3 linked regions of the Homo sapiens genome follow. The protein of the gene in region 1 interacts with the protein of each later gene in a biochemical or structural test. Each region holds a gene or a part of one and is shown on either strand. Other genes may lie near its edges.

Region 1 (7,434 bases):
CTCATGAGGCTTAGCCTGGTGAGATTTCCACTGCACCATGACACCTCTTTAGAAGCAAGTTAAACATGCTTGCTATTTTCTTTTCCCAAGAGGTGTTACCCATAATGAAAAAAACTAAGACCCCACTCTAATTAGCAGATTTTTTAGAGATTACTTGTGGCTGTAAAAGGTAATGTAGTCACTGATTTAAAAAAGGCATGAGATTTAGTCAGAGGATCTGTGATCTGTGTTCAAACCCAGTTCATCACCTTCCCAGACTGGCAAATCACTTAACTTTTCTGAGAGACAACCTTCTCATCTGTAAAACAAAGATGATATTTCCTACAGAAGTGTTGTGAAGATTAAATGTTTGTCAAATAAAACCGTCAAAAGAAGTCTTTAAGAACAAAGATGCTGAAATTCTCAAGGGAAAAAAGCCTCCAACTACAAAAATGGACATAAACGCTCAACAACTACATGCTAAATTTATAATGTTTTAAAAATAGAAAATGTAAAAACATTAGAAATTTGTAGCATAAACTGGAAACTGGTCAGTTTACATAAAAACTGAAGTATAATTGATACCATATTGTTTTGGAAGTTATATCAAAATAAGTGCTATTTGTCCTTGAAATCAGGCCTAGGAACATTTAAAGCTTATGAAGTGCAATACATGCCACTTGCATCTTACTGACTTCATGAAGCTTTTAAAATTTGTGCAGTGATTACACTAACAAGGTAGCCGGGTATAAAAACATAGAAAGTTAAAGAAATTAAACACTGCTGATGTAGTTGATTATACTACTTCCTTAAACTATGTCATGTCATAGGCATCTAACAAACCTAATGATGCTAACCTTCGGTTGAAGAGAGCTGTTACATTTTAGAAAACGTGAAACTAAAAGCAGAAGAGTTACTCATTTCAAGTTTTTCCCACAACATTCTCTAACCCGCTTTTCCAATTAACAACTGGCTAATGAATGATCTCCCAAAGCAGTGCCCAAGTTTTAAATGCTGTATACTCTATTGTCAATCTCCCTTTAGAGATTCCCAATGCATACCAGCAAGAAAAGGTGCTGAGAAGCCCTGTGAGAACATTTCCCCAACATCTGACCATAGATCCCTACATTACTGAATGGTTCTTGATAGCCCCTGGGGTTACTGTCCCACCCAGCCCCATCACACACACAGTCACTTCCAGATTCCTGGAAATTGATGAACATGCAAAATTTCTCCCAAATTTTCAGATTGAATAGGGTTGCTAATTTTTTACTTTGCTAGGTGAGAGTATGTGAAAAACAACATAGTTTTATAAAATACAAAATAAAAAAAGAATAAAATAAAAACATGCAAGTGAAATCCTTCTGGAAATTGCAAAATGCTCTCTGGATAGATTTATTTTTACAGTGAACCCTAATAGGTTGCCTAGAGAAAGGAAACACATTAAGCGGTCATTAATACATTATGTAAAAAGAGCAGAAAAATATTTTAAACTCTTTATCTGTGAGGGAAAAATAATGCCTGGAATTCTTTGAACCACCTGCCCCCGGAGAGCATTTTCTGACTGCATTCTCCAACAAGATGCCTGAGCTCCAGTGGGGACTCCAGATGCAGCAGCTTCCACAGGCTCTGCTGCCTTCCCTGTTCATCTCTCCCTCACCCTCTGAGAAGCCACCCCTTGGTTGGGGGATTCACAGGCAACCACAGCTTTTTGGACCCACTAGCTAAATAATTCTGAACCTCCTTAACACATTACCGAACTACATACTTACATATCTTAAGGAAAAGCTCTAATTAAGAAAAAATATTTAGTAGCTTCTTTAGTAGATATTTTTATGTTAGGCATTCATTTTGCATCTAATAATAATTTCATTTTTATTACCAGCTGACTCAGAATGATGCAAATTTATTTATTAAAAATGAATGAACACTGAGATCACAGTGGTGCCCATGAGCTTGGTTCTCTGGAAGAATGACCTAGTCATAGGGATGCACTATGTGGTCTTGCAGTCATTGCGGAGGCTGGCGAAAAAGAAAGGCACAACTTTTAACCTAGTGCAAGCTTCTTGCACTACAGCTGAAAGGCAGAGGGATAATTATTTACTACTTCCCTTGGGGGAGGGTTGTTCAGAGACACCTAAATGACTTCTCATCAAATGTGGATTTGAAACCTAGAGCATATCCTGGCATGCCTGGGGTTGGTAAGGGTCAATGAAGTAAAGGTCATTATCAAGCTCACTCACACTCAGAGGCTTATAAGTTCTGATACTGAAAACACTTTCACCAAAGCCCAATCTGACCTTCAAAATTAGTGACTTCCCCAGGCAGGGACGTCACCTTTCTGGATTCCTAGGGCGTGGCATGAAAAGCCAGCTCCTCACCTCACCTCTCTTTGCCTATTAACCCATTCCCATATTTTTATTTCCTTCTTGACTTTCTCATTCTCCTTCCAATAACCTTTCTCCTGGGTCATCTGCAAACCTCCAAATCCCACTGGAAATATATGCCTATATATCGTTAAGCTTTTTGCGGAACAGGTAATCTACTTCTTTGGCTTAACGAATACCAATTTCTCTCCCATGAACCCAATTTCCCACAAAGCTCTCCGGAGTGAAGGCTGCATGATCTCTCACACCCCCACCCCCATCTTTAGACTTCTTCACTTTTAAAGTCGTGTTGTCCAGTTAATACTACTGTCCCCTGTGGAGAAGCTGGAGCCTGGCTTAGAGCACCTTGTTTCTTCCTCCTGGCCTTCATGTCCATTAGGATGACTCAGAAAGGCTGTGGCCTCAGTTTCTCTACTAATTCTACACAAATGACCTTTACCATCATCCCACTTTTTGAACACGTATACACCATGACTCCGCTTCAGAAACATTAATGACATCACACTCTCTGGCACAACCTCTTGTCCCTGCAGCTCTGCCATCCCTTTCATCTCTTACATCTGTTTTTGATGCCACCAATGTTCCTGCAATATCTTCTCCTTTCCACCCTGCCTCTTACCTAAGGCTGTCACCCTGAGTGCAGGCAGACCTCTACTTTGCAACCTGCATGGTGAATCCTGGCCCAATGGATCTCACATCATAATGCTCCTCAGCTAATAGCCTTTTCTTTTGGCTTTACCTGCAAAAATTGTTTCTAGGAAAGTAATTTCATCCATTATTAATAAAACCTCATTTTCAAGTAAATTAGAGGAAGAACAACAGTCCGAATTTTTAAGGAAATGTTTTAATTCAAGTTCTATAGAAGTTACCAGCATCCTGAAAAATAGTAATTGCTAGAGTCTTTTTAAGGAAAAGATTAAGATGCTTTGTAATTAGTATAATAATTTATATGAAAATAATGAGTTCCACTGTTCTTATGACAAATTCTGATTTAACAAGGATAATAAAGTTGCACTATTCTAGAAAACAGACAAAAGGTTAAATAAAATCCTATATTTTAACAGCTTTCAGGCAACAGACTACTGAATGGCTTCAAGAAAAATTATTACCTTACTGAAAAACATTTTTGTTAATTCCCTCAAACGGATACAATACTTATTCTCCCTAAAAATGTTGGGGTGGCCCGATCTAATGGCCACTATAACTGCTTTCATACTCGCCTCGATTCCATGTTATATTAACCATACAAATGTAAGAATGTCTGCTCAAAAACAAGTGAAAATTGGAGATGGCTAAAGAATCAAATAGCCTTCTTAAGGCCTTTAAGGTATTACTGGACAACGCAATTTTAAAGGTGATGTTTCTAATTACTCTATTTGAACAGTTTTCTAAATATCTGGGCCTAAATAAAATGTAACCATAAAATCGAAAGTTTTTAACTGATACCTAACATAAACCCTAGAAATATTTATCCAGTACTAAGTCAACTAATTCAGATGCTCATTTGTCCAAGAAAGGATACTTACTTGCAAATTGTAGTCTTGCAGAATTTTAACCAAGGAATCTCTCAAATTGGGGATCTCCATTCCTTCCTTAATACGGTGAATCAGTAGAATTGGGTCAACATGTGTGCCAATGTTGTTTAACAAGCCAGTAATAAATGCTACAAAATACCACATAAAACAATGAACATATAAGCAACATTATAATGCAATTTTATTTGCACATAATTTGCATATAATGCAATTTTAGATCAAAAGTAACTCAAAGAAAAAATTATTTCCTTCAAAGTAAGTGTTAAAACCATTTGAATTTCTAAACTCTTAAGAATTAATCTTCTAAACTTCCAAGAACTAACGCTCCTTAAGACATGAAGGAGAAAGTAAATAAGAACTGTTTTAAAACAGTTGAACAAATGATTACTTGCCTTCAAAATACAGTTTTTAGCATCAAATGGGTGTAAATAATATTTATTGACAACTGACTATGGCTCAGGTATCATATACACTTTCCTCAAATACTGTGCAAGGTAGGAATGCTGTGTCCCCATTTTACAGACAAGGGAAATGGGGTGTTTAATTTTTCCAGGGTCACACGGCTAATAAGTAATGTGCCCAAATTCACTCAGGCCAGCCTCAAGTTTATGATATGTTCTGCCACATCACTTTGCCTCTTGAGATCCTTAAACTACTACTTTATCTTGCTAGTTACAAGTGAGATTCTTTATATTGTCAAGAGGATAGTTATTAAAGTCAATTTCAGATTAAGGTAGTTACATGAACACAAAGACTTCCTACCAAACTTAAAAAAAAAAAAAAGGAAAGAGGAAATTTCAAATCACTACTGCTAGTTATTTTCAAAAGAGTTGGGTTTCTGTTAGGTGACTGCTTTTGTTTTTTCCTTTCCAAAATGGGAGACCCAATGCAAACAGTCAAGCTGAGGACCAACAAATACAAACTCTGGGTGTTGTACTGATAAAAATAGTGCAGGAAAGAGGCTAAATACTACAACACAAACATCCAAATATCATCAATGTCCAGAACAGTTACATGTTTCCAAAAAAGACTGGTAAGGTCTATACACTTAAACTATAAACACTCCCATATACAAGCTAAAAACAAAAAAAAACCACACCAACACAACCCAGATGACATTTATTCAATTTGCTTGCAGCAGGTAAAAATATGCCTCATGGGGACACAATTAATAAACTGTGTAGCCACCTGTTCTTCATCACATGCAGGTAATGCAAAGTGATGAGGCTCCAGGTTTTCCAGCACAGGAGGAGTATTGGAAATCATTACAACACACCTGGCCTATTTTTATTGTAGGTACGCTACCATTTTCTTAACCCAATGTATCTTGAAATAGTTTTTAATCTAGACATAACTGGTTACACTGAGAGAAAAAAAAGTTATAACCAGAGATGGCTTTTATGCTTACGTGGTTTGTCAATGGAATATAAAATCAAATCTTCCCACAGCTCTCCATCATCTTGCTCCTTGGCAAATTCGATTGCTTTATCAACATCATGTAATTCCTCCATAATCATCTTCAGGGCACTTCGGCTATTACCCATTCGGCCTTGGTGGGGTGAAGATGGGAGAAAGAGTTCATTTAAGGTATTTTAATAATTTTTTTAAAGAAATTGCATATCTCTTAATTTGTTTACATAGGTGGAAAGCTAAGACAAGGCTATTTTCTCATGTGACACCAACATTTACTGTCTATAACATAGCAAAATAAGTATCTCCTATTTACTGGATATTTACTCTGTACTGAGTACTCATTTAAGTGCCTCATATAAATGACATCATATAACCATCACTACAACCCTATGAGGCATGTTCTACTAATATTCCTCTTTTATAGAAGAGGAAATAGAAATGTTAGTAGCTTGCTAAGATCATACAGCTACTAAATAGTACACTGTGAATTTGAAGCCAGGTCTGTCATACTCTGACTTACTTTTGATAGACTTATATATATTCTGGAGGTCAATACCTTCACATGCAGATACACTTAAAATGTTTAAAGGCCCTAAAGTCATTCTGCCTCATGAGGTAGCTGTGCATACTGCTTTTCTGATACACTTTGTGCCAACTGCAAACTCAACTATCAGAGGGCTTCCTCATTTTCTTCTCTCCCACGTTCAGGGGAAGGCCTTTCAATAACCCTCATGAGATGAAAGTATTTATCAACCATGCCTTCTATTGGCTAATTGTCTTTACATACTTTGCTCACTGACCTATGGCATTTTAATAGTTTAAAGTTTTCCATGAGTTTTTAATATAGTGCATGTAAGAAAGCCTTACTCAGTGGAGGGACAACAACTGCCTGGTTGTAGGTTGTCACCCTTACCCCTGTCTCTGGGCTTGCAGGAACTAGTAAAGGATCTTGAATCCTTCCCCCTGCACACGGCCATTATCAACTGATAAAAGCTGGCTTGTGAATGAAATGATATCCCATTTGATACCCCTTCCACAGCATTTTGTGTTTCTTACAAATATTATTTCCACAGTTTATGTCTCTAAAAATGGTTAGTTATTTAAAAATGTTTACAGGATTATCAAGTTTTTATAAAATCAGACTATATGTCCCTAATAAGTCCTCTACTGCTTCTAAGACAATATGACAAAAATTTATTCCACCAAAATATTTCTTGGGGAGAACACTGTTTGGAATTAGTGAATTGATGAGCTACCTAAAATTGTGATTAGAACCCCAGGAACATGCTGAAGTAACAAAATGCAGCCCCAAAAGCACTTCTCCTAAGAAGGGCAGGTGCTATAACTGGACAGTTCTGGGTTTGTGGCTGAGCACCCATGAATCTGCATACACATAAAAGGGAATAGAGGATTTGGATTATTTTTCAACAGAGGCAAAGAGGCCAATGAGAGTGAGTGCTGTATAAGGGAAAGGCGTAAAGCGGAAAAACCCTACTGAGGTCAGCAGGGAAGTGACAATGGAGAAACACCAAATATGAATGTTATGTTATATGCTACATTATGCAATCCTCAGTACAACCCACATTGTTGTCATGCACGTGGCTCATTTTGGAAGAATGTGAAAAGATGACAAGTTTTGTTTCTTGGTATGCATGGTACAAAAATTGTGACTCATGTGGAGGTAGGAGCCAGAAGACCAGGAACACTGACACCTAGATTATATTAAAAAGCTCTCCTCCTTCTCCAAAACTATGGTATTCAATTGCATTTCCTCTAGTTATTTAGGGTGTGATTTCTAAAAGTGATTATTTATTTTCTACCAATATGATGGTAATATAAGCTGATTATAATTTTTTAGAAAATGAAAAAACTTGTCAACTCATCTACAACTTAATCTATGTTGTGAGGTATAAACTGATAAATTTTGATATGTTGATTATACATTGCCAATATGTTATTTCAACATTTATGAAACAACTCTTCCTTCTTTACTGTGCTGTGAAGTCTGTTTCATATATTAAATTATTGTAAAAATAGGCTCATATTCTGTGTTACGTTGGTCTAAAACCTATGTCCTTTCTTACACAATTTACTTCATGTTGTCATCCCATTTCTTAGTT
Region 2 (7,434 bases), on another chromosome or scaffold:
CGGGAGGTGGGGGGGTTCATCTCTGTCTGGCCTGCTGGTTTCTTAGTGATTGACTTGCTGGGATCTCAGTGACTAGCTGGATACTTCTGTGTCACCTGAGAGGATAACTGTGGGGGCTGTGTGGTTGAGCTGTGTCTTTCTGGCTCTGTGTCAGCCCTTGTACCATCTCTACCCGCCTGCCCGTGGTCTTTGCTGTGTATCTAACCTACTTGTTCCTTTGTCCATCCCATCATGTCTCTGCAAATGTCCAGATTCCTCCAGCTTGTCCTTACCCCAGTCCAGGTGCCCACAGAGTGAGCATGTGGACTCGGGCCTGGTGTGTGTATGGTAGGAGAGGGCAGAAGAGCCCCACTGTCTCCCTCTGGTCATTCCTGATCCAGCTGTACCCCCCCTTCTTACCCCTTCCTTCCCTAGAGGACCACAAGCTGGTGTTCCTACAACAGGGCCCACTGTTGCTCGTGGCCATGTCACGGACTTCTCAGTCAGCAGCCCAGCTGCGGGGGGAGCTGCTAGCTGTGCACGCACAGATCGTGAGCACACTTACACGTGCAAGTGTCGCCCGCATCTTCGCACACAAGCAGAACTATGACCTCCGCCGCCTGCTGGCTGGTTCAGAGCGCACACTGGACCGACTTCTGGACAGTATGGAGCAGGACCCAGGAGCCCTGCTCCTGGGTGCCGTGCGCTGTGTGCCCCTTGCCCGCCCGCTGCGAGACGCACTAGGTGCGCTCCTCCGACGTTGCACAGCGCCTGGCCTGGCGCTGTCAGTGCTGGCAGTAGGCGGTCGACTTATAACAGCAGCCCAGGAGCGAAATGTGCTGGCCGAGTGCCGGCTGGACCCAGCTGACCTGCAGTTGCTGCTCGACTGGGTGGGTGCACCAGCCTTTGCGGCGGGTGAGGCTTGGGCACCTGTGTGCCTGCCCCGCTTCAACCCTGATGGTTTTTTCTACGCCTACGTGGCCCGCCTGGATGCTATGCCTGTCTGCCTGCTGCTGCTTGGCACCCAACGTGAAGCCTTCCATGCCATGGCCGCCTGCCGGCGCCTGGTTGAAGATGGGATGCATGCCCTTGGTGCCATGCGTGCCCTTGGGGAGGCTGCCAGCTTCTCTAATGCCTCATCAGCCAGTGCTCCTGCCTACAGCGTGCAGGCTGTCGGGGCGCCGGGCCTCCGGCACTTCCTGTATAAGCCGCTGGACATCCCTGACCACCACCGCCAACTGCCCCAGTTTACCAGGTAGGCCCTGACCCTAAGGCAACTGGCTGGGTGGGAAGGCCTGTCAAACCAGGAAGTTCAGCATCTCAGGGATGTGACTCAGGAGAGATAACCAGCCATGCTTAAGAAAGAGGGAAGAGAACAAGTCTCTGTCTGATGATGGAGCATCAGCCACAGACCTAAAGGAATCCCCCTCTTCTGGTGGACAGCAGGGCCCTAGTACTCAGGGAATCTCCTAGTTTGATGAGGGAAGGTCAGCCTCCAACCCCTGAGAATCCTCAAGTCTCATGGGAGAGGCTCAGCTCCCTAACTTCATTGAAATCTCTAGACTGAGGGAGGAAATGGGCCAGCCAAGAAGGCCCTGGACTAACCTTGTCCTCCACCTCCCTCCATCATGGCAGCCCTGAGCTAGAGGCCCCCTACAGCAGAGAGGAGGAGCGGCAGCGGCTGTCGGACCTGTACCACCGCCTGCATGCTCGTCTCCACAGCACCTCCCGACCCCTGCGCCTCATTTACCACGTGGCTGAGAAGGAGACACTACTGGCCTGGGTAAGTTGGGCAGGGCTCTGAGTGAATTAATTCCCCACTTCAAGCCTCCTTTCCCTATATTGTATCCCCTCCAGCCACAGTGCCTCCACCAAACACAGCAGGCCTCTGGCTGGGCTGTGCCTTGCCTGCAACACTGTCCCTGCCTTTACACACACATCTTTGAAGCCCCTGACAACTAATGACCGTGTCTCTAATCCGACATTAGCCTCACCCTCCTGTGTGCTTCTCCCAGATTAGCAACCAGGACAGTGTCTTTGACTTTCCAGAGGCCCCATTAACTACCACTGCTGTGCCTGCCGATTCCCCAGTAGCCCAATCCATGTGTTTGGAGGCACCCCATTCATCACCAGCTCATTGTGACTCCATGAGTCCCCAGCACTCCTCAGACTACAGGCGTGGTCCCTTGCTGTGCCCTCCACCTGGGGTATCCTTCCCTTTGGTCTCCTCTGGGCTCCAGCCCTCACTTCCTATGGGTTTGCTAAAGGTCAGCTACTAAGGGAGGCCAGTGAAGGAGGCCTCATCAGAAATGGCACCTGCCATGTAATGCATATTTATTAATTTATTGCGTGACTGCTGTGGATCAGGTATTGTCCTAGGCTAAGAATTTTGTTTTTAAATTTTTTTAACTTTCATTTTCAAATAACTTTAGACTTAGAAGCTGCAAAAACAATATAAAGAGTTTTTATATTTATATTTATAAAGAGTTATAAAGGGCGTGGTGAAAACCACGCCTGGTCAGATGGTGGTTTTCCTAACTCCATCATTCTTTCTACATTTATTGGCTGGGATTTTACTATAAAGAGTAACATGGGGCCGGACGTGATGGCTCACGCCTGTAATCCCAGCACTTTGGGAGGCTGAGGCAGGCTGATCACTTGAGGTCAGGAGTTCGAGACCAGCCTGGCAAACATGGCAAAACCCCGTCTCTACTAAAAATACAAAAATTAGCTGGGCGTGGTGGTGCGCACCTGTAGTCCCAGCTATTCATAAGGCTGAGGCAGGAGAATCGCTTGAACCTGGGAGGTGGAGGTTGCCGTGAGCCAAGATCGCGCCACTGCACTCCAGCCTGGGCGACAGAGTAAGACTCCATTTCAAAAACAAAAAGGAATAACTTTTCCTTCTCCTATTTATTGAATTTTTAATTTTCTATCAATATTGTCTCATGGATTTTTCTTTAATTCAGTGAGCTAAAATCCTTCTCTAGCATTTATTTTGGTGTTCAGATTGCCTCTGATTTAGCCGGTGGGTACCCTGATTTAGCCAGGCTGATCCCTGTGTCTCTGACACGTCCCCTTCACTATGTGAGCACATCTTACTTGACTTTCTCTATTCCAGTCCTCAACTCAGCCATTTTTCCATGGAGCCCTTATACCTTTTAGTAGAGATTGGAATTTTAAAACCAAGATATGGGCCAGACACGGTGCCTCACGCCTATAATCCCAGCACTTTGGGAGGCTGAGTCGGGGTGGGAGTTGGGGGGAGTGGGCGGCGAGTCACAAGGTCAGGAGTTCGAGACCAGCCTGGCCAACAGGGTGGAACCCCATCTCTACTAAAAATACAAAAAATTAGCTGGATGTGGTGGCATGCGCTTGTATCCCAGCTACTCGGGAGGCTGAGGCAGGAGAATCGCTTGAACCTGGCAGGCGGAGGTTGCAGTGAGCCGAGACCGTGCCACTGCACTCCAGCCTGGGTAACAGAGTAAGACTCTACGTCAAAAACAAAAAAACAAAAACAAACAAAATATATGTTAGGAGCAGAATTTTAAACCAAGTGATCAGGGTGGCCTCCCTGAGCAGATGGCATCTGAGTGGAGTAGGGAGGTATTGAGCTACGTGGATATTAGGAGGAAGAGTACACCTGGCAGAGGGAAAGGACTGATATGCTATGAGGTGGAACCAAGCCTGGCTATGTTTGAGGAATAGCAAGGAAAGGGTAGAGTGGCCGGAGCAGAGGGAGTGAAGGGGAGCGCTCTGGGAGGTGGCACAGGAAAGGCGCTAGTGACCTTGTGGGGTCAGGCCTCTCCATGTGGTATGAGGCATAAATTGAGTTCCTCTTTATATTATTCCCTGGCTGTAGATGATGAAAACATAGTTGTAGGAGCTTAGAGCAGGACCTTGTACACAATAGGTTACTGACAGAATATTAAACATTGTTACTGTTTTCCCCAGTTCCCAATGAGCAAACAGGTCTAGAGAGTACCCACACACACAACCAGCATCATCCAGTTGAAGTCACTAGGTCCAGCTGAAATTGCACAATATCAGCTTACCTACCTTAGCCCAGTATCTAGGCAGCACCTGGTAGGAGGTGCTGCCAGGTACATGTTCCAGGTTGCAGGAGGCAGACATGCAGCTGCACTGGGGTAGGCAGGATTGTCCATAGCCAGCTCTGGCCCATCTGACTCTGTCTCCTCCGAAACCCCCAGGTGACCTCCAAATTCGAGCTCTATACCTGCCTCAGCCCTCTGGTGACCAAGGCAGGTGCAATCTTGGTAGTGACCAAACTCCTGCGCTGGGTGAAGAAAGAGGAGGACCGGCTCTTCATTCGTTACCCACCCAAGTACTCCACACCACCAGCCACCTCTACGGACCAAGCTGCCCATAATGGCTTGTTCACTGGACTCTGATAGTTGGAGCTCCCAGACCAGGCAGTGCTGGGAGCAACCACCTTTGTTTTTTACCTTCTGTCTACCCTGGAAATGTGTGTGGGGGTGTGTCTGTGGCCAGTCATTGTCTCCCTAAGCAATGGGGCAAGGTCTGAGGGCCCACCGATGAGAGAGATGGTGGCAGCCGCCAGGCGAGCAGGCTGCTTTCCCTGCCCAGTCATGCACCTCCCCCTCTGGGGAAATCCTTAGGCCTCCCTCTCCCTTCCCTCTGTCTCATCTCCTCCACTTGGATGATGCTCTAGCCTCTGTCAGGGACTGTCCCCTCCAAACTTGCTTCCGTGGTCTGCCTCCTAGTTGAATCTCAGCCCTGAGTGTCCAGATCTGGCCAAGGTGTCTAGGGTGGCCCACGGGGGTGCTGGAATTGGCACTTCAGGGCCAGGCTATGCTTGGGACTGGCCTGAGGGTATTTTAAAGAAAAAAACTACATAAAAGGCCTAAAAGTAAGACCCACAAGGATATTCCTTTGCCCTTCTTGTACTTTTTTCATCTTTACCCTGCCAGAAATGACCCGCCCTCAATGCTGGCTGCTGCTAACATTAATGAGAAGGTGGCCTTCAGTGTCCACCTGTGGAACCCAGGACACAGCACCTGACTGCACACAGTGGCTGAAATCCAGCATTTTTACATAGGAGATGCACTTAGCCTCTAAGCCTCGTTTTACTCATCTGTGAAACAGAGATAAGTAACCCTCTCTCATGAACTCTTTGATGAGGATTTGTAAACGAAAACAGACTCGAACTATTGTGTACCACCACATAGCACATGCACGTCTGTCCCAGACTTTGACAACCTGCACAAGACAAGCAGCCTAAAGCAGGAGAGACCTCCCTAGGGTTTTGTGTGTGTGCACACTACCCTCACTCCCCAACTGGCCATTACCCTAGTTCTGCCCTTGTTTGTGGAGTTACAGCCTCAAGGTTGTAGCATGTGTGCTGGCAATCAGGGCCGCAGTGTGTTCTGCGCCTGCCCAGAGCTGACTCCTGATTTAACCGCTGGCGTAACCGCGGGTTGCACGCATGCGTGCTGAAAAGCCTTTCACCCTCACGTGGTTTCTTTTTTAACCAGTCATCAAGCGAGGCTCGCGCGCAGGCCCCGCGTTGGAAAATGGCGGGGAAGCTGAAACCTCTGAATGTGGAGGCGCCAGAAGCTACTGAGGAGGCTGAAGGTAGTGAGGGCAAGTGGGCTGCACTCCTTTCTCTCCAACCAGGGCAGAAAGGAGGGAGGATTCGTCCCATTACAATAATGAAATAATGATATTCTAATTTTTTTAAATAAAATGTTAAGCCTTTTGTTATTGAAGAAAAACAATTTTTTAACCGTTCAGCACAGTGGAGATAAATTAACAGGCATATTCTTATCACCGAGATTAACTTTTGTCAACTGTAGTGTATACGTTGTTGAAAGTAAACAACATGTAGTTCAGTACGAAAGTCTTCAAACAAAAGTGGGGCGGTGGGGATGTTCTCATAACAATCACCGTGCTGCAGCCACCCCTTATTAACAGTAATTCCCAGTGTCGCCATTTCACACCTAACACATATGACACTTTGATGGACTCTTAAACCTCCTAATCGAACATGGCCTCCCCCACAGCCTCTTTTCTCCAGGGTATTGACTTGAATGACAGGCAAAGGAGGGTGGAGGGGTGTCGGCCTAGACACTATTGGAAATTGTATTCCATCCAAAAGAAAAAAAAATCTCAGGCCGGGCACGGAGGCTCACGCCTGTAATCCCAGCACTTTGGGAGGCCGAGGCGGGCGGATCACGAGGTTAGGAGTTCGAGGCCAGCCTGACCAACATGGTGAAACACCATCTCTACTAAAAAACTATATATACATATACATATGTGTGTATGTGTATTTATATGTATGTATGTATGTGTGTGTATATATATATATATGTATATGTGTATATATATATATATGTGTATATATATATATATATACACACACTAATCAGCCGGGCGCGGTGGTGTGGGCCTGTAATCGCAGCTACTCAGGAAGCTGAGGCAGGAGAATCACTTGAACCCGAGAGGCGGAGGTTGCAGTGAGCCGAGATCATGTCACTGCACTCCAGCCTGGGTGACAGAGTGAGACTCCGTCTCAAAAGAAAAAAAATTCTCCCTTGGCCGGGCTTGGTGGCTTATGCCTGTAATCCCAGCACTTTGGAAGGCCGAGGCGGGTGGGTCACCTGAGGTCAGGAGTTTGAGACCAGCCTGGCCAGCATGGCGAAACCTCGTCTCTACTAAAAATACAAAAATTGTCCGGGTGTGGTGGCGGGCGCCTGTAGTCCCAGCTACTGGGGAGGCTGAGGCAGGGGAATTGCTTGAACCCGGGAGGCAGAGGTTATCGTGAGCTGACATTGCGCCACTGCACTCCAGCGCGGAAGACAGAGTGAGCAAAAAAAAAAAAAAAAAAAGAAAAAACAAAAAGAAAAAAATCTCCCAAGGCAGTCATGCATTTGTATGCCACTAGCATTTTTTTGTTATAGAAATATTCAAAGTGTACCAACGTAGAGAAAATAGCTTTAAACAAAGCCCATGTGTACCTATCAGTATGCTTTAACTGTTGTCACCTTTCTGCCCCACTTTTATCTATCTCGAACACCCCTTTCTGCACACTCTTTAAACCACTGTATTAACAAACACATTAGACTGCATCCTGCCAGACCTACCCATACAGACATCAAAGTAATGATTATTGCTTATTGCCTGACCTAGGATGTGAGCTCCATGAGAACAGAGACTGTTTACCTCTCGCTCCCCTGCACCTAAAACAATGCCTGCTTGGTGTAAAGTAAGTGCTCAGTAATTTTTTAATGTGTGACCAATGAAATAACTTCAAGAGCAGAGAGCTCTTTTAGATTAGAGGCACATACTAAGTGCCAGCATTCAACAAAAGACAGACGGAAATAAGACAGATGCAAATAGATCTCATTTATTAACTGTGTAATGCAGCTGCCACTGCAATTAAAAAAAAAATTTTAGTATCAACCTTTCAAATTCCTC
Region 3 (7,434 bases), on another chromosome or scaffold:
CTCCTGTCTCCCCTCTGCTGTCACACATGTTCTACTGTCATACAAGTTCTTCCTCTGTATCTCTGTCTTCACTTGGTGTTCTCCTCTCTTTGTGTATCTTTTCTCCTCCTCTTATAAGGACATCAGTCATACTGGATGAACAGCCCATTCTACTCCAACATGACCTCATCTTAACTAATTACTTCTGCAAAGACTCTATTTCCAAAAAAGGTCACATTCTGAGGTACTGGGGGGTAGGGTTTCAACATGTCCTTTTGTGGGGGGGTCACAATTCAACCCACAACACAACTCAGCAACAAAAAGACAGCCCCATTTTAAGACAGACAATGGATTTCAGTAGATTCCAATGGATTTGGATAGATTTCCCAAGGAGAGAAATTGGAACCCTCGTACATTGCTGGTGGGAATATAAAATGGTGCGGCCACTTTGGAAAACAGCTTGGTAGTTCCTCAAGAAGGGAAACATAGAGTTACACATGACCCAGCAAGTCTACTCCTAAGTATATACCCAAGACAATGAAACATGTCTACACAAAAACTTGTGTATAAGTGATCATAGCAGCACTATTCATAATTGACAAAAAGTAGAAACAACCCAAATGTCCATCAGCCGAGGAGTGGATAAGCCAAATGTGGTGGATCGAGACAATGGAATATTATTTGGCAATAAAAAGGAATGAACACTTAAACATGCTTATATAACATGGATGCACCTGGAAAACCTCCCACTAAGAGAAAGAAGCAGGCACAAAAGGTCACGTGTCGTATGGTTCCATCTATATGAGATGTCCAGAACAGGCAGGTGTGTAGGGACTGAAAGTAGGTAAGTAGGTGCCTAGAGCTGAGAGTGGCCAGGGGAAATGGGGATGACGGCTAATGGGTACGGGGTTTCCTTTTTGGGTGAGGAAAATTTGCTAAACTTAGATGGTGGTGACGATTGCCCAACTCTGACTAAGCCAAAATGTTTGAATTGGACACTTTATTTATTTATTTTTTTAGAGATGGGGTCTCATTCTGTTGCCTAGGCTGCAACCAGGCTGGAGGGCAGTGGCGTGATCACGGCTCACTGCAGCCTTGACCTCCCTGGCTCAAGCGATTCTCCCGCTTCAGCCTCCTCAGTAGCTGAGACTACAGGTGTGTGCCATCACACCCAGCTAGTTATTTTTTGTAGAGATGGGTTCTCACTGTGTTGCCCAGGTTGGTCTCAAACTCCTGGGCTCAGGTGATCCTCTCACCTCAGCCTCCCAAAGTGCTGGGATTACAGGTGTGAGCCACCATGGCTGGCCGAATTACATACTTTAAGTGGGTTAATTTTATGATATAAGAGCCATATCTAGATAAAGACTTAAAAAAAAAAAAAACTTCAGGCTGGGCACAGTGACTCACACCTGTAATCCCAACACTTTGGGAGGCCGAGGTGGGTGGCTCACCTGAAGTCAGGAGTTCTAGACCAGCCTGGCCAACATGGTGAAACCCCGCCTCTACTAAAAATACAAAAATTAGCTGGGCATGGTGGTGGGCGCCTGTAATCCCAGCTACTCAGGAGACTGGGGCAGGAGAATCGCTTGAACCCAGGAGTCAGAGGTTGCAGTGAGCCGAGGTTGCGCGATTGCACTCCAGCCTGGGCAACAGAGCGAGACTCCGTCTCAAAACAAAAAAACTTTAAAACAAACAACTGTTGTCTTCTTTCCCAACAGAAAAACAAGAGCTGGATCTCAGAGGATGACTTCTACCGGCCTTCCCGGGAGCAACCCCTGGAGAGTGCTTCAGACCACCCAATAGCTTCTTACAGGGGGACTCCAGGGTCAAGGCCTGGTCTCCACAGGCATTTTTCTCAAGAACCAAGAAAAAACTGCTCCCTGGGGGCGTTAGACCAAGCGTGTGTACCTTCCCCAGGAAGAAGGCAAGCCCAGGCAGCCCCATCCCAGGGGCATAAGAGCTTCCGGGTGGTACACCGGAGACAGATGGGTAGGTTACCAGGAGGGTCCCGGGTGGGTCCCATCTGCAGGGACCAGGCCTTTCAGAAGGCAGCTGTGAAGTTCTGTTTTCCATTGCTAAAGGGGTAGTGTGTTCCCACAAGTGTTATAAAACCTCATTCCAGAATGCCATCATAATCATGTTCATTCAGGGAAGCATTTCAGGAAAAGTAGTATATTGTCTCAAAACTGCCTACAGAGGACAAAAATACTGTTTCACCAGTCAAATAGGAAAATATTTTCCCTGAAAACTATGCAATTTATGATTATAGAAAACTCTTGATTCCACCTGTAGCTCAGAGCACATCCGGCCCCATGAAGCCCCAGGTGTTTTAAATGGTCCTTCCAAACGTGTTTACCCTCAGTAGTTGGTTTATGTAACAGCTCTGGGTGGCTTGATCAAATCTGCTATTTGTTTTGTTTGTTTGTTTGTTTTGAGATGGAGTCTCCCTTTGTTGCCCAGGCTGGAGTGCAGTGGCATGATCTCTGCTCACTGCAACCTCAGCCTCCTGGGTTCAAGCAATTCTCCTGTCTCAGCCTCCCAAATAGCTGGGATTACAGGTACCTGCCACCACACCTGGCTAATTTTTTTTTTTTTTTGAGGTGGAGTTTCCCTTTTGTTGCCCAGGCTGGAGTGCAATCATGTGATCTCAGCTCACCACAACCTCCGCCTCCCGTGTTCAAGCAATTCTTCTGCTTTAGCCACCCGAGTAGTTGGGATTACAGGCATGAGCCACCATGCCTGGCTCATTTTGTATTAGTAGAGACGGGGTTTCTCGAAATTGGTTAGGCTGGTCTCCAACTCCCGACCTCCGGTGATCCACCCCGCCTCGGCCTCCTAAAGTGCTGGGATTACAGGCATGAGCCACTGCGCCTGGCCAATTTTTGCATTTTTAATAAAGATGGTGTTTTGCTATGTTGGCCAGGCTGGAGGATCTGCTATTTGTTTAATGTCCTCCAGTGCTTCTTTTTTTTTTTTTTTTTTTTTCTGAGGCAGAGTCTTGCTCTGTCACCCAGGCTGGAGTACAGTGGTATAATCTCAGCTCACTGCAGCCTTTGCCTCCCAGCTCAAGTGCCTCAGTCTCTCCAGGAGCTGGGATTACAGACATGCACTGCCACACCCAGGTGATTCTTGTATTTCCAGTGGACATAGGATTTTGCCATGTTGGCCACACTGGTCTGAACTCTTGGCCTCATGTGATCCACCCACCTTGGCCTCCAAAAGTGCTGGGATTACAGGTGTGAGCCACTATGCCCGACCTCCCCAGTGCTTTTTACAGCAAGGTCAGCTTGATCTCCACACACTGAAATTCCAGAAAGCCTTAAATAACCATAACCAAATTTTTCAGTAACCTTCATGATGGGTTTCCTCTTCAAAACAAACAAAAAAAGTACGCTCTAGAATTGGTCTCTTTCTCTCCTCATTTTCTGTCTGCAGTGACCCAGCAGAGAATCCTGCCCAGCTCAGGGGGCCTTGCTGTGGGTAGCCCTGGCATGGGTTGTGTGGGTAGAGCCCGGTCTCCGGGCTGGCTTCTGTTAGGTTTGTCTGTTGGCCCGTGTGATGGCTGTGGTCTCTAACCTGCCAGCGAAGCTGTGCTTCAGGTCTAGGCCATCAGGTTTCTTGAGGGGCAGGGAACCCCCATAGAATAGTGTGAAATCTCCAAGGCTATTCCAGGCTGGCGGAGAGAGAATTGTGTGTCCTTTGGACACCCTGGTTGTTGTCACACCCCAGGCAGCAGGGAGCTGTGGGCAACATGTGATACATAGGCACTCACCTGCTCATTCATTCAGCAAATATTATTGAGGCTCTGTGATGTGCCAGGCACTGTTCTAAGTGCTGGAGACATAGCAGGCAGCAAAGCAGTGTCCCTGTCTTCATGGGATTTAGATTCTAGTAGAGGAGACGGGAAATAAAATTAACAAGTAAGCATAGTGTGTGGTCAGGTGGTCATAAGTGCTATGGAGGACAGTAAATCTCTACCTGTCTACAGAGGTAGAGAGTGGACCACTGCATATAGGATGGCCAGAAAAGCCCTCACCAATAAGGGGATGTTTGAGGAGATGCAAGGGGAGAGAGGGAAGGAGTCATGAGGCAATGTACGTGTTTCAAGCAAGGAGAACAAATGCAAAGACCCTGCGCTGGGGCTGCGCTTGACACATCCAGGGACAGTGGAGACCAGAGTGGCAGGAGAGAGGAGATGGGGGCGTGGCAGTGAGCGATGAGGTCAATCTGACGAGGCCTGTGGGCCACTGGAAGCACTTTGGCTTCAGCTAAGGGAGATGGCCGCCACTGTGGAGTTTTGGGGCAGAGGGACATGCTCTGACTTCCCTTTAAATGGGTCATCATGGCTCCTACGCTGAGGGACTACAGGGGAGAAGGGGAGAAAGACCAGTTAGGAGGTTGTCATCACAAGCCAGGCCAGAGATGACAGTGGGTGGGGTGCAGCTGGGGAGAGGCGGGGATTCCGGATGTGTGGAAGGCAGAGCCAATGGGATTTGCTGATGTAGGCTGCGAAAGAAAGAAAACCTGGGGTAACACCAAGATTTTTAGCCCAGGCATCTGGAAGGATGAATTTTGCTATTTGGTGAGATGAGGACCATTCAGGAGGAAGCAGGCTGGCAGCAGGAATTCATCCTGGACATGTCAGCTGAGATCCTAGTGGACATGTATGGCACAGGTGGATATATGAATGTGGATTTCAAGAACAAGGTCCAGGCTGGCGATAAAAATTGGGAGCTAAAGCCTGAGAGCAGGTAGAGTGGTGAGAAAGTGGCATCTACAGAGAGGAGACAAGGACCCAGGACTGACATCTGGGCACTCTAACGTGAGAGGCCACAGGGAGGACCGAGCCAGAGAGATAGAAGGGTGGGGGCGAGGGCTGAGGAGTGGCCTTGGGGTTTGGCAACGAGGAGGGCATTGACCATCTCAGAAACAGTGTCAGTAGAATGGGGGGAGAGAAGCCTACTTGGAGCAGGTTCGAGAAGGAATGGGAGCAGGGAAACTAGAGACCAAGAGGTTTTTTGTTTTGTTGAGACGGAGTCTCACTCCTCTGTCACCCAGGCTGAAGTGCAGTGGAGTGACCTCAGCTCACTGCAATCCCCTGCCTTCCCGGTTCAAGCCATTCTCCTGCCTCAGCCTCCCTAGTAGCTGGGATTACAGGTGCTCACCACACCTGGCTAATTTTTGTATTTTTAGTAGAGACGGGGTTTCACCGTGTTCACCAAGCTGGTCTCAAACTCCTGACCTCAAGTGATCCACCCACCTCAGCCTCCCGAAGTGCTGGGATTACAGGCATGAGCCACCGCTTCCGGCCAAGATGAACAGTTTTGATGCCTCTTCAAACAGGTTTTCTGTAAAGGGGCCTGAGAAATATGGTGGTCATTAGGGAAGTGCATGGAGACGAGAGGTGTTTCTAAAGATGGGAGAAATGACAGCGTGCATGTGTGCCGATGGGAGTCACCCCATAGAGAAGGAAGAAAGCAGTGACAGAGGAGAGGACTGCTCCTTGTCCTTGAGTAGTTGGCCAAGGGAGAGACCTCCTGCACAAATGGAGGGTTTGGCCTCACGCAGAAAGAAGCACACTTGGTTCATCCCTGGCAGCAGGAGGGAAGGCGTGGGTGTAGGGAACAGGGCGTGTGGAGGGGATCTTTTGGGTGCTCTTATTTTCTCAGTGAAATACAGGACGCAAGAGCAGCAGTGGACGGTGAGAATGGGGATGTTCCCATCCAGCTTTCAGGGTCCCATGTGATAGTGCCCCGTGGCTGGCCTGTGTTCTGGGGACAGTCACTGGCCACATGCACTGCAGGGCATCAGGCAGCAGAGGCTGCCTTGGGCAGGACAGAGACAGGCCCGCCAACTAATGTGCCCCTTTTTGCCTCTGCCTCCAGGACTGTCCAACCCATTCCGGGGTCTCATGAAGCTGGGCACCGTGGAGCGGCGGGGGGCAATGGGCATCTGGAAGGAGCTCTTCTGCGAGCTCTCCCCGCTGGAGTTCCGCCTCTACCTGAGCAACGAGGAGCACACCTGTGTGGAGAACTGCTCGCTGCTTCGCTGTGAGTCTGTGGGGCCAGCCCATAGTGATGGGCGCTTTGAGCTGGTCTTCTCTGGCAAGAAGCTGGCCCTGCGCGCCTCCTCCCAGGACGAAGCTGAGGACTGGCTGGACCGGGTGCGGGAGGCCCTGCAGAAGGTCCGGCCTCAGCAGGAGGATGAGTGGGTGAACGTGCAGTACCCAGACCAGCCTGAGGAACCCCCCGAGGCGCCCCAGGGCTGCCTCTCTCCCTCAGACCTGCTCTCGGAGCCCGCGGCCCTCCAGGGCACACAGTTTGACTGGTCGTCCGCCCAGGTTCCAGAGCCAGATGCCATCAAGGAGTCCCTGCTGTACTTGTACATGGACAGGACCTGGATGCCCTATATATTTTCTCTGTCCTTGGAGGCTCTGAAATGTTTCCGCATCAGGAACAATGAGAAGATGCTGAGTGACAGCCACGGCGTGGAGACCATCCGGGACATCCTGCCAGACACCAGCCTTGGGGGCCCATCCTTCTTCAAAATCATCACGGCCAAGGCTGTCCTGAAGCTGCAGGCCGGAAACGCCGAGGAAGCCGCCCTGTGGAGGGATCTGGTCCGCAAAGTCCTGGCATCCTACTTGGAGACAGCCGAGGAGGCGGTGACCCTGGGCGGGAGCCTGGATGAAAACTGTCAGGAGGTGCTGAAATTTGCCACCCGGGAGAATGGCTTCCTGCTGCAGTACCTGGTGGCTATCCCCATGGAGAAAGGCCTTGACTCCCAAGGCTGCTTCTGCGCAGGTGCCGATTTGCTCTGCTGCCACCCCCAGCCTGCCAGCCTCACTCCACCTCCTGCTGGTTCCTGATTTAGGCTCCCCACCCTTCTGCCTCCCCGCAAATGCCCCCATCCTTCCCCTAGGGATGAGGCCACAGATCAGGCTTGCCCTACAGCTTCTGCTCCTCCCCAGCCCCGGCTGGGGCCAGTGCCCTGCTCATAGGCAGTGGGCCCTGCTCACCCGTCCCTCTCCTGCCACCTCCCACTGATGGGCGGCAGGCTGGCTACTCACTGCGCTGCTCAGGGAGTCCCAGCCTGCTTCATTTTCTTCTTGCTCTACCGTCCTGTTCTTTCAGAGCAGGGGCATGGTTTCCTTCCAAATATTTCTGCTGCTTTTATAAGTGTACACCCTTTTTTTTAATTATAAAAATGGGCTCGTGCTATTCAGTGCTGTCCAATAGAACTTTCTGTGATGATGAAAATGTCCTAGATCTGTGTGTCCAGTGCCATAGCTGCGAGCCATGTAGTGCTACCAGGTGCTTAAAGTGTGGCTAGTGTGGTTAAGCAACTGAATTTTCTATTTAAATTCATTTGCATTTAAAGGGGACACACGGGGCTCTTGGCTGCTGTGTTGAATGCTGGATATATTGTTCCACAACTTGGTTTTTTCCTACACTG

The links.
Region 2: the proteins of VPS41 (region 1) and MON1B form a complex in vitro, tested with the Homo sapiens proteins (one study listed by BioGRID).
Region 3: the proteins of VPS41 (region 1) and PLEKHM1 form a complex in vitro, tested with the Homo sapiens proteins (one study listed by BioGRID).

The regions. Positions count from the first base shown.
Region 1 is NC_000007.14:38,738,093-38,745,526, forward strand, and holds part of VPS41 (vacuolar protein sorting-associated protein 41 homolog), read right to left. Parts: intron 5,451-7,434; coding exon 5,310-5,450; intron 4,030-5,309; coding exon 3,893-4,029; intron 1-3,892. UniProt on the Homo sapiens protein: Plays a role in vesicle-mediated protein trafficking to lysosomal compartments including the endocytic membrane transport and autophagic pathways. Acts as a component of the HOPS endosomal tethering complex.
Region 2 is NC_000016.10:77,193,921-77,201,354, forward strand, and holds part of MON1B (vacuolar fusion protein MON1 homolog B), read left to right. Parts: intron 1-414; coding exon 415-1,234; intron 1,235-1,614; coding exon 1,615-1,762; intron 1,763-4,187; coding exon 4,188-4,388; 3' UTR 4,389-5,531; coding exon of another isoform or gene 5,532-5,592; 3' UTR 5,593-7,434. Other genes in the region: SYCE1L (synaptonemal complex central element protein 1-like), read left to right, coding at 5,532-5,592.
Region 3 is NC_000017.11:45,452,703-45,460,136, reverse strand, and holds part of PLEKHM1 (pleckstrin homology domain-containing family M member 1), read left to right. Parts: intron 1-1,697; coding exon 1,698-1,968; intron 1,969-5,256; exon of another isoform or gene 5,257-5,306; coding exon of another isoform or gene 5,307-5,322; intron 5,323-5,864; coding exon 5,865-6,782; coding exon of another isoform or gene 6,783-6,847; exon of another isoform or gene 6,848-7,203; intron 7,204-7,434. UniProt on the Homo sapiens protein: Acts as a multivalent adapter protein that regulates Rab7-dependent and HOPS complex-dependent fusion events in the endolysosomal system and couples autophagic and the endocytic trafficking pathways.